Linked DNA regions of Homo sapiens: all the other regions are reported to be linked to region 4. Evidence: microRNA targets listed by miRTarBase, many of them from high-throughput screens and not tested one by one. Region 4 holds a microRNA gene; each other region holds the end of a gene's coding sequence.
Evidence for each region. The annotated mature microRNA hsa-miR-521 reads AACGCACUUCCCUUUAGAGUGU and lies in region 4 at 1,794-1,815, opposite strand. An mRNA with a match to its seed (bases 2 to 7 or 8) in the 3' UTR can be bound and repressed. Matches are read on the target gene's strand: a 7mer-m8 pairs with bases 2 to 8, a 7mer-A1 pairs with bases 2 to 7 and ends in A, and an 8mer does both.

Region 1 (3,000 bases), not on the chromosome of region 4:
CACACTTGGTTAATTTTTGTATTTTTTATTTAGAGACGAGGTTTTGCCATGTTGCCCAGGCTGGTCTTGAACTCCTGAGCTCAAGTGATCTGCCTGTCTCAGCTCACAAAGTGTTAGGATTACAACCACCGTGCCCGGCCAATAGCTTTTTCAAACTAGCTTTTTCAAAGGTCAAATGCATCCTCACCAAGGGGACAAGATTGAAAGTAGAATGGCCTGGGCTTAATAAATCAATGATTTGAAACTATCAGAAGAAAACATGGAGAAAATGCTCCATGACATTGGTCTGGGCAATGATTTTTTTGGATACGATCTCAAAAGCACAGTAACAAAAGCACAAGTACAGAAATGAAATTACATGAAACTAAAAAGCTTCTGCACAGCAAAGGAAACAATTAATAGGGTGAAGAGACAACCTACAGAATGGAGAAAAAATATTAACTATAGATCTGATAGGGGGTTAATATCCAAAATACATAAGGAACTCAATAGCAGGAAAACAACCCATTTAAAAATGGGCAAAGAACCTGAAAAGACAGTTCTCAAAAGAAGACATGCAAATGGCCAGCAGATATATGAAAAAATTATCAACATCAGCAGTCACCAGGGAAATGCAAATTAAAACAACGAGATACCACCTAACACCTGTTAGAATGGCTACTATCAATAACACAAAAGATAACAAGTGTTGGCAAGGATGTGAAGAAAAAGGATTTCTTGCATTATTGTGAAGAAAAAGGAATTCTTGCATATTCTTGGTAGGAATGTAAATTAGTACAGCCATTATGGAAGACAGTATGGAGTTTCTGCAAAAAGTTAAAAATAGAACTACATATGATCCAGCAATCCTAATACTGGGCTTATATCCAAAGGATATGAAATCAGTATGTCAAAGAGATATCTGCACTACCAGGTTCACTGCAGCATTATTCACAATAGCCAGGATATGGTATCAACCTAAGCATCTGTCAATGGTTGAATGGATAAAGAAAATGTAGTACATATACACAAACAGCTGATCTCATAGAAGTAGAGAGTAGAATGGTGGTTACCAGGAGCTAGGGTTGTTGGAGAAACATTGGTCAAAGGATACAAAATTTCAGTTAAAAAGGGGGAATTAGTGCAAGAGACCTATTGCACAACATAGTAACTATAGTTACAATTACAAGATTACTATTAATTTTGAAAAATAAGAGAATGGATGTAAAGTGTTCTTACCACAAAATGGTAACCATGTGAGGCATATGTCAGTTAGCTAGATTTAGTCATTCTATAATGTATATATGCTTCAAAACAGTATGTTGTACATGGTAAATACATACAATTTTATCTGCCAATTGGAAAAAAAAATCAATTGTAAAAGCAAGTGTTTGGAAAACATTTAGCTGGAAAGGTCTGATAGGAGGTCTAACCCTTATACACTTAAAAACTCAACAACTGGCTGGGTGCAGTGGCTCAAGCTTATAATTCCAGCACTTTGAGAGGCCGAGGCGGGTGGATCATTTGAGGTCAGCAGTTCGCAACCAGCCTGGCCAACATGGTGAAACCCCATCTCTACTGAAAATACAAAAAAATTAACCGGGCGCAGTGGCGGGAGCCTGTAATCCCAGCTACTCAGGAGGCTTAGGCAGGAGAATTGCTTGAACCTGGGAGGTGAAGGTTGCAGTGAGCTGAGATCAAAACACTGCACTCCGGCCTGAGCGACAGAGTGAAACTCCATCTCAGGAAAAAAACAAAAAAACAAAAAACCCTCAACAACTGTTTACTTTTGGTATTCAAGCTCATAAAAGCCTCATTTACTAGTCTACTGCTGGTAAGGATCAGGAAGGGAAAATTAAGATTACCTTCATGATAATCACGTGTGGGTTGACACAGACGGAGACAATAACATAGAAATTTTATTACAGCATTTCATGTTTAAGCCAGATTCCCTGCCAGGATATTTTCTGCTTGAATTAATGAGGCAGGATTTGGTCATACCTTAATGAGTTTCACAGAAAAAGAGTTCAAGCATTAGCGCAAACTGCCTTCTGACATTAAAATAAAATAAAGCAAACATGGGATTTTCACAAAGTTAAAAGCCTCCTGTGATGCACATTTTGGATAGTAGGAGACATTGAGCCCCAAAATGTTTAACATAAAGCATGGTTAATTAAATGAAACCACTGAAAAATGTGAATACATGAAGAAGAAAGAATAAAATAATTTTGATGTTACCATTTCAACTACTATTTTTGATATAATCATTCTTGGCAAAATCATTCTTAAAGGTGGAAACGAGCAGGCTGATAGTACAGCAAGTAAGAGAAAGTCAATACTGATGGCCTCCACTTGCTGATCCTCTGAGACTGCATCTTATAGTTCATAAAATCTGCTGAAGGTCACAACTGAGGTACAACGACTTGTGTTACTTGTACTGTAGCAATGAGGGCTTTCCCAGGCCACAACATCTGGGATCAAGGAACACATTTTGACTAAATAAACTATACAGAAGTCTGTTTTAGGATTTTATGCAAATATTAACCTCATTTTAAAACATGAGGAAAAATATTACCCACATTTAGGGCTAATTTAGCTGTCAGGAATAGACCATACAGTTGAAAAAAACACAGTCTCATTTAAAAAGTTTCAGCAGAGACAAAAAGGTACTAAAGATGATATTCATCCTTCTTCATCACTGCTGCTCCAGGCATCTTCAAAGGCCGGATTTAATTGTGATTTTGTTGTAGTCTAAAAAAAAAAAAGATAAAGAAAAAGGAAGATTCTGTTTTTTCTACTTCATAATTTTAGGCTCACAATAAAGTTATGAAATATATCAGATAAATAGCAATTACATTATTTTGGAAGAAAATGTATAACTGTTAATTTCAGAACAAAAATAAGAAACAACCCATATACAATATAAGATAATGTAACTTCATTTGAAACAGACAACACCAGACTTTATCCAAACACCCTGTTTCCTTTAATCACTTCACAAATACATACATACACACATAC
Region 2 (3,000 bases), not on the chromosome of region 4:
CCTGGGGCCTAGAGGACTGCAGGCCACCGCCCGGAAGGTGGGCACCCCAGGGGTGAGCAGGCAGAGCTGGGGTGGCTGGAAGGGTGGCCCCTGTGTGGGCGGCCCCTGCATTCACCATCCACGCCCCCAGGCCTCCCGCCGCAGCCGTCAGCCCGCCCGGCATCCTGCCTGCATGCTGCCCCCACACCTCAGGACCACCCGAGACTCCTACCAGTTTGGGGGTTCCCTGTCCAGTCACCTGGAGTTTGTGGGCATCCTGGCCCGACATAGGAACTGGTAAGGCCAGGCCCGGCTGGGGTGGGCTGAGAGGGGCCGCGCAGGCTGACGCCAGCTCCGCTTCCAGGCCCAGTCTCTCCATGCACGTCCTCCCGCGAAGCTCCCGAGGCCTCCTCCTCTTCACTGCCCGTCTGAGGCCCGGCAGCCCCTCCCTGGCGCTCTTCCTGAGCAATGGCCACTTCGTTGCACAGATGGAAGGCCTCGGGACTCGGCTCCGCGCCCAGAGCCGCCAGCGCTCCCGGCCTGGCCGCTGGCACAAGGTGAGGGCCGAGAAGAAGGAAGGTGGTGGGCAGGGCCTGGCAGCCCTACCCTGACCCATCTCCTGCCCCCAGGTCTCCGTGCGCTGGGAGAAGAACCGGATCCTGCTGGTGACGGACGGGGCCCGGGCCTGGAGCCAGGAGGGGCCGCACCGGCAGCACCAGGGGGCAGAGCACCCCCAGCCCCACACCCTCTTTGTGGGCGGCCTCCCGGCCAGCAGCCACAGCTCCAAACTTCCGGTGAGAACCATCTTGCCCCAGCCCCCACTCCCCACCCACTGTTCCCTTTCAGCTGCCCTGGGCCCTGATCCCTGCCCGGTCTGCTCCTATAGGTGACCGTCGGGTTCAGCGGCTGTGTGAAGAGACTGAGGCTGCACGGGAGGCCCCTGGGGGCCCCCACACGGATGGCAGGGGTCACACCCTGCATCTTGGGCCCCCTGGAGGCGGGCCTGTTCTTCCCAGGCAGCGGGGGAGTTATCACTTTAGGTCTGTGGGTGCTGGCATCCCAGGCCTCAGCAGGGCAGGGCAGGGGGCTCCAGGAGGTTCTGGGGAGGGGCCCCCCCTTTCTTCTCCATCACAACCCCTCCCCGCAGACCTCCCAGGAGCTACACTGCCTGATGTGGGCCTGGAACTGGAGGTGCGGCCCCTGGCAGTCACCGGACTGATCTTCCACTTGGGCCAGGCCCGGACGCCCCCCTACTTGCAGTTGCAGGTGACCGAGAAGCAAGTAAGCCTGGCAGAGGTGGCGTGCCAGGGCAGGGTTTGCCTCCCCATTCTGGTGACCTCGGGGGCATAGCCTGACCCTCCCTTCCTACCCCGCCAGGTCCTGCTGCGGGCGGATGACGGAGCAGGGGAGTTCTCCACGTCAGTGACCCGCCCCTCAGTGCTGTGTGATGGCCAGTGGCACCGGCTAGCGGGTGAGGCCCCTCCTGTGGCCAGGGCACTCTGCCACCCCCACCCTTCTGCAGAGCGGGAGCCAGGCGGGACTCTGGGTGGGGTGGCTTCTTTTGGGGCTGGAGAGAGGCTGGGCTGAGGACCACCTGGCCTCAGGAGTCCCCCTTTCTCCCAGTGATGAAAAGCGGGAATGTGCTCCGGCTGGAGGTGGACGCGCAGAGCAACCACACCGTGGGCCCCTTGCTGGCGGCTGCAGCTGGTGCCCCAGCCCCTCTGTACCTCGGGGGCCTGCCTGGTGAGTGCGGCCTTGATCAAGGGTGGGGGAGCTGCCCCTCAGGACTAGGTGCTGCGTAACCTACCACCCTCCCCCCACCCCTCCACCCCCTGCCCCCTCCCACCCTCCTCCCACCCCCCTACCACCCTCCTATGATGTGGAATGAGACAGGGGCTGGGTGGGGCACTGACGTTTGGGAAGGGCCTGTGGGTCTCTAGCTGCCCACCAACCAGCCTTCTTCCATCTTCCCTGTGCCCCCAGAGCCCATGGCCGTGCAGCCCTGGCCCCCCGCCTACTGCGGCTGCATGAGGAGGCTGGCGGTGAACCGGTCCCCCGTCGCCATGACTCGCTCTGTGGAGGTCCACGGGGCAGTGGGGGCCAGTGGCTGCCCAGCCGCCTAGGACACAGCCAACCCCGGCCCCTGGTCAGGCCCCTGCAGCTGCCTCACACCGCCCCTTGTGCTCGCCTCATAGGTGTCTATTTGGACTCTAAGCTCTACGGGTGACAGATCTTGTTTCTGAAGATGGTTTAAGTTATAGCTTCTTAAACGAAAGAATAAAATACTGCAAAATGTTTTTATATTTGGCCCTTCCACCCATTTTTAATTGTGAGAGATTTGTCACCAATCATCACTGGTTCCTCCTTAAAAATTAAAAAGTAACTTCTGTGTAACCGAATGAATGTTGACTTAAATACGGAGAGAGTGAGTCTCAAGACAGATCTGGAACCGGCCTGGACAGAGGCACCAAACTCTTCCTGGGGTGACCGTTTTCCGTTGTTAGGTCAAATAACTAACTGTCTCTGGGACCCTACAGCAGCTCCCCACGCTAGCACCTGTCCAGCCGAAACTCCCTTTGGGCAAAGAAACTAAGCATTGGCAGGTAAAAGAAAAGACTTTATTAATAATCAGTGGGTGGGAGGTGAGGGTGTGCAACGCACTGCAAGCGCCCAGTTCCTCGGAGGACGGCGCGTGGCTCAGTCCAGGCTCATGTCCTCCTCTTCGTCCTTCTTGTCCTTCGTGTCGCCCTCTTTCTGCTCGGGCTTGGCGTTGTTCTGCATGGCTTTGGCAAACGCTTCCACATCTAGAACACGTTAAAGACACAAGGTGGTGTCTAACCCTTGCCCAGAACTGGGGATCAAAGCGATGGGATCAAGGGCAGAAGGGCTGTGACCTTTACCCCCTCAGCCCCACTTCTGCAGATCCAGGGGGACAGGAATGGACCCTGCCCCTGGCTCTGGCCTGGAGGTGCAGGCGCAGCCACTTACCGCCCTTGTTGGCGGCCTCCACAGCCTCTGCAG
Region 3 (3,000 bases), not on the chromosome of region 4:
TACTATTACCTACTAATGGTATAAAGCTTTGAATAAATGAGCAACTTTCAAACGGTAAAAAACGATCTTTGGGCAACAAACCAAAAGTTGAAAAATCTTAAATATTTTTTTCTCAATTTTAACATAAATACCATTGTTAGAGAAAAAAAAAAAGCAGCTTCCCAACATCTAGCAGTCATGCAGCCATGACATTCCATGTTTACATCCACACGTGTCAGCCAATTTTCTCAAAGCTCCACTGATTGTCCAATTGTCCATTGCATTTTCCAACTGTTGTCAAATTTAATTAGGAAAAGATCTTTCCAAGTTTCCTGCAAGTTCAGACTCTAAAATGGGGATGTTTGTCATAGCAGTGGAATTCTTATACGAAATAGCATACACATGCCAGCTATGTATGTTATATTGGTCTTTATTTTTAGCATTTCATTCTATTAAAATAGGTTCAAGGGATACTTTTTAAATGTATAAGCTAAGGAATTTATTTTCCTTTCCTGGTCTTCTTTAATTGTATTGCTTATGGGGAGTGTCCCCCCAAGAGAGATTGCGGGTTGGTTGTGAGTTTAGTTAGGCGACATCATCACCTTCAACACAACTGGCACTCTGCTCACCTGCTTGTGGAGGGCAGCAGCAGAGATGGCACGTGGAGTTAGGAGCCACTGCTGATGAAACATATGACCAGGGCCAGGTTTATCCCAACTCCTGGCTCCTTCTCTCCATGTTCCCCCGCCTCCTTCCTTCTCCCTCCCTCTCTGTCTTACGCACACACGCACACACACACACACACCTCACTCTTCAGCAGGGCCATGATGAGTCAGCTCTAGGGACAGTCAGGAGCCCTGCTCTCATTTCCAGCACTGGTGGCAGCTGCAGTGAGGGGCCCTGCAGGCAGATCAGGAATACCTGCGTGGCTGGGGCTTAGGATTGCTAAACCAGCCTGTCCCACTCCAAAGTAACAGTAACCTGTCTCCACTCTCTTCCTGGGAAGGACCCCTCCCACCCTCCCCCAAAATGCAGGGAAGATAGGTACCCCCATCAACAACAAGGTGGGTACCCCCCCCCCACCAACGTCTCCATCTCCAGGGAGTCCCAGATGCCACAAAGACTCAGGGCATCTGACTGGGGCACTTAGGTCCTCTAAGGAGTACAGAGGCCAAAAAATTCCTCTTCCCAGTGACTGGGGGCTCCTTGTCCTTCACAAAGATACCATCCCTAAGAAGGAACTGGGTGGGGCAGGGTTCAATTTACACAGGAGGCTGCTGTTCAGGAGCTCTGAACACACGCACAGCTTTGGCTCAAACTGTGGGTTTGGAGGGGAAAGAGACCAAAACAAGTGTGGCCTTCCATGAGCCTGTGTGAGTGTGGGTGTGGGTGTGGGTGTGGGTGTGGGTGTGGGTGTGGGTGTGTGAGTATGAGTGTGGGTGTGGGTGTGAGTATGAGTGTGGGTGTGTGTGGGTGTGAGTGTGGTGTGAGTGTGGGTGTGAGTGTGAGTGTGGGTGTGAGTGTGAGTATGAGTGTGGGTGTGAGTGTGGGTGTCAGTGTGAGTGTGGGTGTGAGTGTGGGTGTCAGTGTGAGTGTGGGTGTGGTGTGAGTGTGGGTGTGAGTGTGAGTATGAGTGTGGGTGTGTGTGGGTGTGAGTGTGTGTGGGTGTGAGTGTGGGTGTGGGTGTGAGTGTGTGTGAGTGTGGGTGTGGGTGTGGGTGTGAGTGTGGGTGTGAGTGTGGGTGTGAGTGTGAGTGTGAGTGTGGGTGTGGGTGTGGGTGTGGGTGTGAGTGTGGGTGTGAGTGTGGGTGTGAGTGTGGGTGTGGGTGGCACAAACCTGGACCCTTGGGGAACTCCTGGGTGCTGGGCACCGCTCCTGTGGTCAGTGGTGGCGGGGCCCTGGGGAGTTGCCTTGTCCTAGAGGGGGGTCATCAAGGACCAGGGCTGAGTGACAGGGAAGGGAGCTGGTATCCCAAGGGCGCTTTCTGCCCACGCAGTGCTTCTCCCTCCCACCACCAGCAGTTCCAACCATTAGCAAGACCTTCCTTACACAGGACCCAATGCCAACTGTCTCAGATCCCCTCACTGCAGGCTCCTGGCCCACCTGGAGCCCACTGCAGCTGCTCCTGAGCTCTGTCCCCCAGCCCCTGCGGCAGCTTCCCTGAAGCAGAAGGGAAGGCCCTGAGCCAGGTGGGCCAAGCTGGGTGGAGGTGGAAAGGGCCCCCACCACCTGGGCCGCTCTGGCAGCCCACCTTCTTCCCATCTGCTCTAAGGCTCTTTGGAGTCAGCCAGCCTCCTTGGAAAACGCTGGAGCTGAGGGCCGACCCGCCGCCCCTTCAAGGCAAATCCCTCGAGAGCACAGGTTCTAGACGCCCAGGGCGGCTGGACTTAGAGGCAGAGCAGGGAGGTTCCGAAGGTCGCCTGGGTGAGGGGTGCACAGCAGAAGGGCCACCCACCCCAAAGCCCAAGAGCCGCTCAGCCCAGCTCCCTGCTGGCCGAGCCGCCCCCGGCTCTGCGCTTCCTCCCAGGGCACCAAGGCCTTCAACGCCAACACGTGGGGCTGTCACCAGGGGAAACCGGAGGCCTGAGCTCAGCACCTCTGGACCCGCACCCGGCTAGCCTCCAGCCTCCCTTCAAACTTCGGTCCCTTCCCGGCTGTAGAGGAGGTGACTGAGGCGGAAGCCGGCGGCCGCGGTCTGGTGGCCAGGGGCGAAGCCAGGGGAGGGGTTAAGGGTCTGGGGAGCGTGGGTGGCGACTGTCGGTGGCCGCCTCCCGAAAGAAAAGTCGCCCGCCAGGCCCCCGGGGAAGGTGCCAAGGCCGCCAGCCAGAGCGCTCATAGCAGAAGCGAAACCGGAGAAGCAGGTGGCGGCCTCGGGTGCGGATGGAGAGGGCGAGGCCTGCAGGTCCAGGCAAGCCGCGCTCGGGGGCTCCAGCGCTGGCGCCTCGGCCCCTCCCACGCTCCTGGCTCCCGAGCGCACGGCCGCGCTGGCTTCAGCTCTCCTCTTCCTCTTCCTTCGGAAGT
Region 4 (4,649 bases):
CTCCAGCCTGGATGACAGAGCCAGACCTTGTCTCAAAAATAACCAACCAAACAAAACACACACACACACACACACACACACACACACACACACACACACACAAATACCCAAAGTGATATAAGACTATTCTCTGTGCATAGAAGAGTATTTTGTGTGTATGTGATATTACATATATAAAAATATATCATGGCCGGGCATGGTGGCTCACATCTGTAATCCCAGCACTTTGGGAGGCTGAGGTGGATGGATCATCTGAGGTCAGGAGTTCGAGACCAGCCTGACCAACATGGAGAAACCCCATCTCTACTCTAAATACAAAAAATTAGCTAGGCTTGGTGGCACATGCAAGCAATCCCAGCTACTTGGGAGGCTGAGGCAGGAGAATCGCTTGAACCCAGGAGGCAGAGGTTGCCGTGAGCTGAGATCGTGACATTGCACTCCAGCCTGGGCAACAAGAGTGAAACTGTGTCTCAAAAAACAAACAAACAGAAAAAACAAAAAAGAAAGCTCCATATATTGTATTCTCACAGGAAGTATAATTCCTACGCATATGTGCTTGCTTTGGCAATACGCATAAAAAAATTGAAATAACAAAGATTACCATGACCCCTGCACAAAGGTGACACTCAAATTCATAATGGTACCATATTTATCTATTTAATTCTTTTTACTTTTATTTTGTTTATTTATTTACTTATTTTTGATACAGAGTCTCGCACTGTCGCCCAGGCTGGAGTGCAATGGCCCGATCTCGGCTCACTGCAACCTCCGCTTCCTGGGTTCACACGATTCTCCTGCCTCAGCCTCCCAAGTAGCTGGGACTACAGGTGCCAGCCACCATGCCCAGCTACTTTTTTGTATTTTTAGTAGAGATGGGGTTTCGCCATGTTGGCCAGGCTGGTCTCGAACTCCTGACCTTGTGATTTACCCGCCTTGCCTCCCAAAGTGCTGGGATTACAGACGTGAGCCACCCTGTCTGCCCTACTTATTTATTTTTTGAGACAGAATCTCGCTCTGTCGCCCAGGCTAGAGTGCAATGGTATGATTTCGTCTCACTGCAATCTCCTCTTCCTGGGTTCAAGAGGTTCTTCTGCCACAGCCCCCCAAGCAGCTAAGATTACAGGTGTAATTTTGTATTTTTAGTAGAGTCGAGGTTTTGCCTTGTTGGCCCAGCCAGCCTTTAACTCCTGACCTCAGGTGATCCACCTGTCTCGGCCTCCCAAAGGGCTGGGATTACAGGCATGTGCCACCACGCTCGGCCTATTTTTTATTTTTTTGAGATGGAGTCTCACTCTGTTGCCCAGGCTGGAGTGCAGTGGAACGAACTCAGCTCACTGAAAGCTCAGCCTCCTGTCTCTACTAAAAATACAAAAATTAAGGCCGGGCGCAGTGGTTCACGCCTGTAATCCCAGCACTTTTGGAGGCCAAGGCGGGTGGATCACAAGGTCAGGAGATCAAGACCATCCTGGCTAACACAGTGAAACTCTGTGTCTACTAAAAATACAAAAAATTAGCCAGGCGTGGTGGCGGGCGCCTGTAGTCCCAGCTACTCAAGAGGCAGAAGAATGGCGTGAACCTGGGAGGCGGAGGTTGCAGTGAGCTGAGAACACGCCACTGCACTCCAGCCTGGGCGACAGAGCAAGCCTCCATCTCAAAAGCAAAACAAAACAAACAAACAAAAAACTCAAAACCAAAACAGAACTACACCGTCGTCCAAGTCTGATGATAAGCAGGCTCTGCAAACTTATTACCAAGATCAGCATCAGCTTCAACGTTGCTTTTCTCACACGGTAACACTCTAAAGGGAAGTGCGTTCTTTTCTTTTAGACAACAGAAAGTTCTTCCCTTTGGAGGGTCACAGCCTGAGATCTTCTTGCTCCAGGACTCTGGGTTTTTTGGTGAAATTTTCGTTTACCAGGTTAAAATGGACAGAAAAATAAAGATGCATTCATTGTCCCTGTTTGCATGTTTTCTGGAATCCAGAATATAAACCCCTAAAAAAACCATCTCCAGTTCCTTGCTTCAAAGGCTCAGCAGGTTAGCCTTGTTCATGCAGGGGCAACCCTCCTGAGTTTTGTCTCCAGAAAGAAAAATCAATGCCGACTAGACATACCTTATATTTCACCAAGAGAATAGGGCAGGATTTCTAGAGAACAGCAATGGATTTTGAGCCAAGTGTTCACTCGAGTTCCAGCACAGGGACACACAGTCCCGATGGGAGCATCCAAAATGGAATCTAAAATGTTGAAAATGTACATTGTTATATACACAAACATCCTCCAGGATAGACCACAGACTAGGATGTAAAAGCTCCTCAATACAATTTGAGCAGAAACAAACAAGTACGGGTGTGGCACGGTGGCTCACACCATTAATCACAGCAGTTTAGGAGGCCGAGGTGGGAGGACCACTTGAGCTCAGGGGTTCAAGACCAGCCTGGGCAACATGGTGAAACCTCATCTGTACAAAAAATGCAAAAGTTAGCCAGGTGTGGGGGTGCATGCCTGGAGACAGGTATTCAGGAGGCTGACATGGGAGGTGGAGGTTGCGGTGAGCTGAGATCACACCACTGCACTACAGCCTGGGCAACAGAGTGAGACTGTCTCAACAACAAACAAATAAATCAATTAAAAAAATGCAAAAATTAGCCGGGCGTGGTGGCACATGCCTGTAACCCTGCTCGGGAGGCTGAGGCCAGAGAATTGCTTGAACCCAGGAGACAGAGATTGCAGTGAGCCAAGTTCCTGCCACTGAACTCCAGCCAGGGTAACAGAGTGAGACTCTGTTTCAAAAAGAGGACCACTTGAGCCCAAGAGATCTAGGTTGGATGTGCCACTGCACTCCAGCCTGGGCAACAGAGACACCCTGTCTCAGATAAAAAACAAAACAAAAACAAAACCCCACCATCATCCACGTCTGACCATAAGCATGCTCTGCAAATGTATTACCAAGATCAGCGTCAACTTCAATGCTGCTTTTCTCAAACCGTAACCCTCTGAAAGAAAGCACTTTCTGGGCGGGCGTGGTGGCTCACGCCTGTAATCCCAGCACTTTGGGAGGCCGAGGCGGGTGGATCATGAGGTCAGGAGATCGAGACCATCCTGCCTAACAAGATGAAACCCCGTCTCTACTAAAAATACAAAAAATTAGCCGGGCTTGGTGGCGGGCGCCTGTAGTCCCAGCTACACAGGAGGCTGAGGCAGGAGAATGGCATGAACCCGGGAGGCGGAGCTTGCAGTGAGCCAAGATCACGCCACTGCATTCCAGCCTGGGCGACAGAGCGAGACATTGTCTCAAAAAAAAAAAAAAAAAAAAAAAAGGACTTTCTTTTCTTTAAGACAACAGAAAGTGCTTCTTACCTCTAGATGGCCACAGCCTGAGAGCCTGAGATCTTGCTCCAACACCGTGGATTTTTTGTTGGAATTCTCCTGACCAGGTCAAAATGGGCACCAAAATAAAGATGCATTTATGGGTCCTGTTTGCATGTTTCCTGGAATCCAGAATATAAACCCTTAGAAGGACCATCTCCAGTTCCTTGCTTCAGAGAATCAGCAGGTTAGCCTTGTTTATCATAGCACAATCCTCCTGAGTTTTGTCTCTGGAAAGAAGAAGCAATGCCTACTAGAAATACATTATATTTAACCAAGAGAAACGGGCAGGATTTCTGTGGGTGGCAAGCCACCCAGGTGCCGAGGCAAGAGACCGAAGGCACAAGCTGTTCCGGTATAATAAAGAAACTCACCACAAGCCGTTCCAGTATAACAAAGAAAATATATAGAATAAGACTAGTTATACTAGAAATAGATTATAGATATGATTATATATGAATATTATTAATCATTAGTTTGTAGCATTACTCTTTATTCCAATATTATAATAATCTTTGTTCTACAATCATAACCTAGGGAAAACCAGGCCATACAGAGATAGGAGCTGAAGGGACACGGTGAGAAGCGACCAGAAGACAAGAGCGTGAGCCCTCTGTCATGCCCGGACACGGCCACTAGAGGGCTCCCTGGTCCAGCGGTAACACCAGGGGGAAGGCACCCGTCACTTAGCACAGCGGTAGCGCCAGTGCCTGGGAAGGACCCCCTTACCTTCCCAAACCCGGAGAGGGAGTCTCCCTTTCTCCAGGGGAGTTAGAGAAGACTCTGCTCCACCACCTCTTGTGGAAAGCCTGACATCAGTCAAGCCCGCCCGCAGCCGTCTGGTGGCCTAAACGTCTCCCTGTGATGCTGTGCTTCAGCGGTCACGCTCCTGGTCCACTTTCACGTTCCGCTCTGCACACCTGGCTCCGCCTTCTAGATAACGGTAGCAGAATAAGTGAAAGTATTAAAGTCTTTGATCTCTCCGAGAAATACATAGAAGAAATAATGACGTAAGCTGTCCCCAATCTCTCTCCGCCTAAGCTACCAAATAGGGAAGGGGCCCCCTGTCCGGTGGACACGTGACTCGCGTCATCTTACCTATCATTAGAGAAGACTCACACTTCTTACCCTGCCCTTTTGCCTCGTATACAATAAATAACGGCGCGGCCACGCATTCGGGGCCACTACCGGTCTCCACGTCTTGGTGGTAGTGGTCCCCCAGGCCCAGCTGCCTTTTCTTCTCTCTCTTTGTCTTGTGTCTTTATTTCTACAATCTCTCCT

Region 1: the mRNA of ERCC8 is a reported target of hsa-miR-521. The part of its 3' UTR that is shown has no 7-base or 8-base seed match.
Region 2: miRTarBase lists ADRM1 as a target of hsa-miR-521. Seed matches in the 3' UTR shown: 7mer-m8 at 2,635-2,641.
Region 3: the mRNA of FOXI2 is a reported target of hsa-miR-521. Seed matches in the 3' UTR shown: 7mer-A1 at 756-762.

Annotation. Positions count from the first base shown.
Region 1 is chr5:60,871,954-60,874,953 of GRCh38, forward strand. ERCC8 (ERCC excision repair 8, CSA ubiquitin ligase complex subunit) reads right to left here. Exons shown (of 12, transcript NM_000082.4): 12 at 1-2,730. The coding sequence ends at 2,662. Among named protein-coding and RNA genes, the nearest start is that of ELOVL7, 29 kb to the left of the region's middle.
Region 2 is chr20:62,308,438-62,311,437 of GRCh38, reverse strand. ADRM1 (ADRM1 26S proteasome ubiquitin receptor) reads right to left here. Exons shown (of 10, transcript NM_007002.4): 9 at 2,968-3,000; 10 at 2,576-2,783. The coding sequence ends at 2,677. LAMA5 (laminin subunit alpha 5) reads left to right here. Exons shown (of 80, transcript NM_005560.6): 72 at 1-37; 73 at 131-276; 74 at 344-536; 75 at 609-773; 76 at 866-1,019; 77 at 1,127-1,260; 78 at 1,357-1,450; 79 at 1,603-1,722; 80 at 1,963-2,373. The coding sequence ends at 2,102. Among named protein-coding and RNA genes, the nearest start is that of ADRM1, 6.9 kb to the right of the region's middle.
Region 3 is chr10:127,738,577-127,741,576 of GRCh38, reverse strand. FOXI2 (forkhead box I2) reads right to left here. Exons shown (of 2, transcript NM_207426.3): 2 at 394-3,000. The coding sequence ends at 2,612. Among named protein-coding and RNA genes, the nearest start is that of FOXI2, 2.9 kb to the right of the region's middle.
Region 4 is chr19:53,745,855-53,750,503 of GRCh38, reverse strand. MIR521-1 (microRNA 521-1) reads right to left here and starts at 1,868; the gene lies at 1,782-1,868. LOC124904765 (a long non-coding RNA gene) reads right to left here. Exons shown (of 6, transcript XR_007067334.1): 3 at 4,098-4,301; 4 at 3,360-3,598; 5 at 2,114-2,236. It also overlaps the pseudogene RNU6-751P. RefSeq lists an enhancer at 2,704-3,302 and a silencer at 4,361-4,573.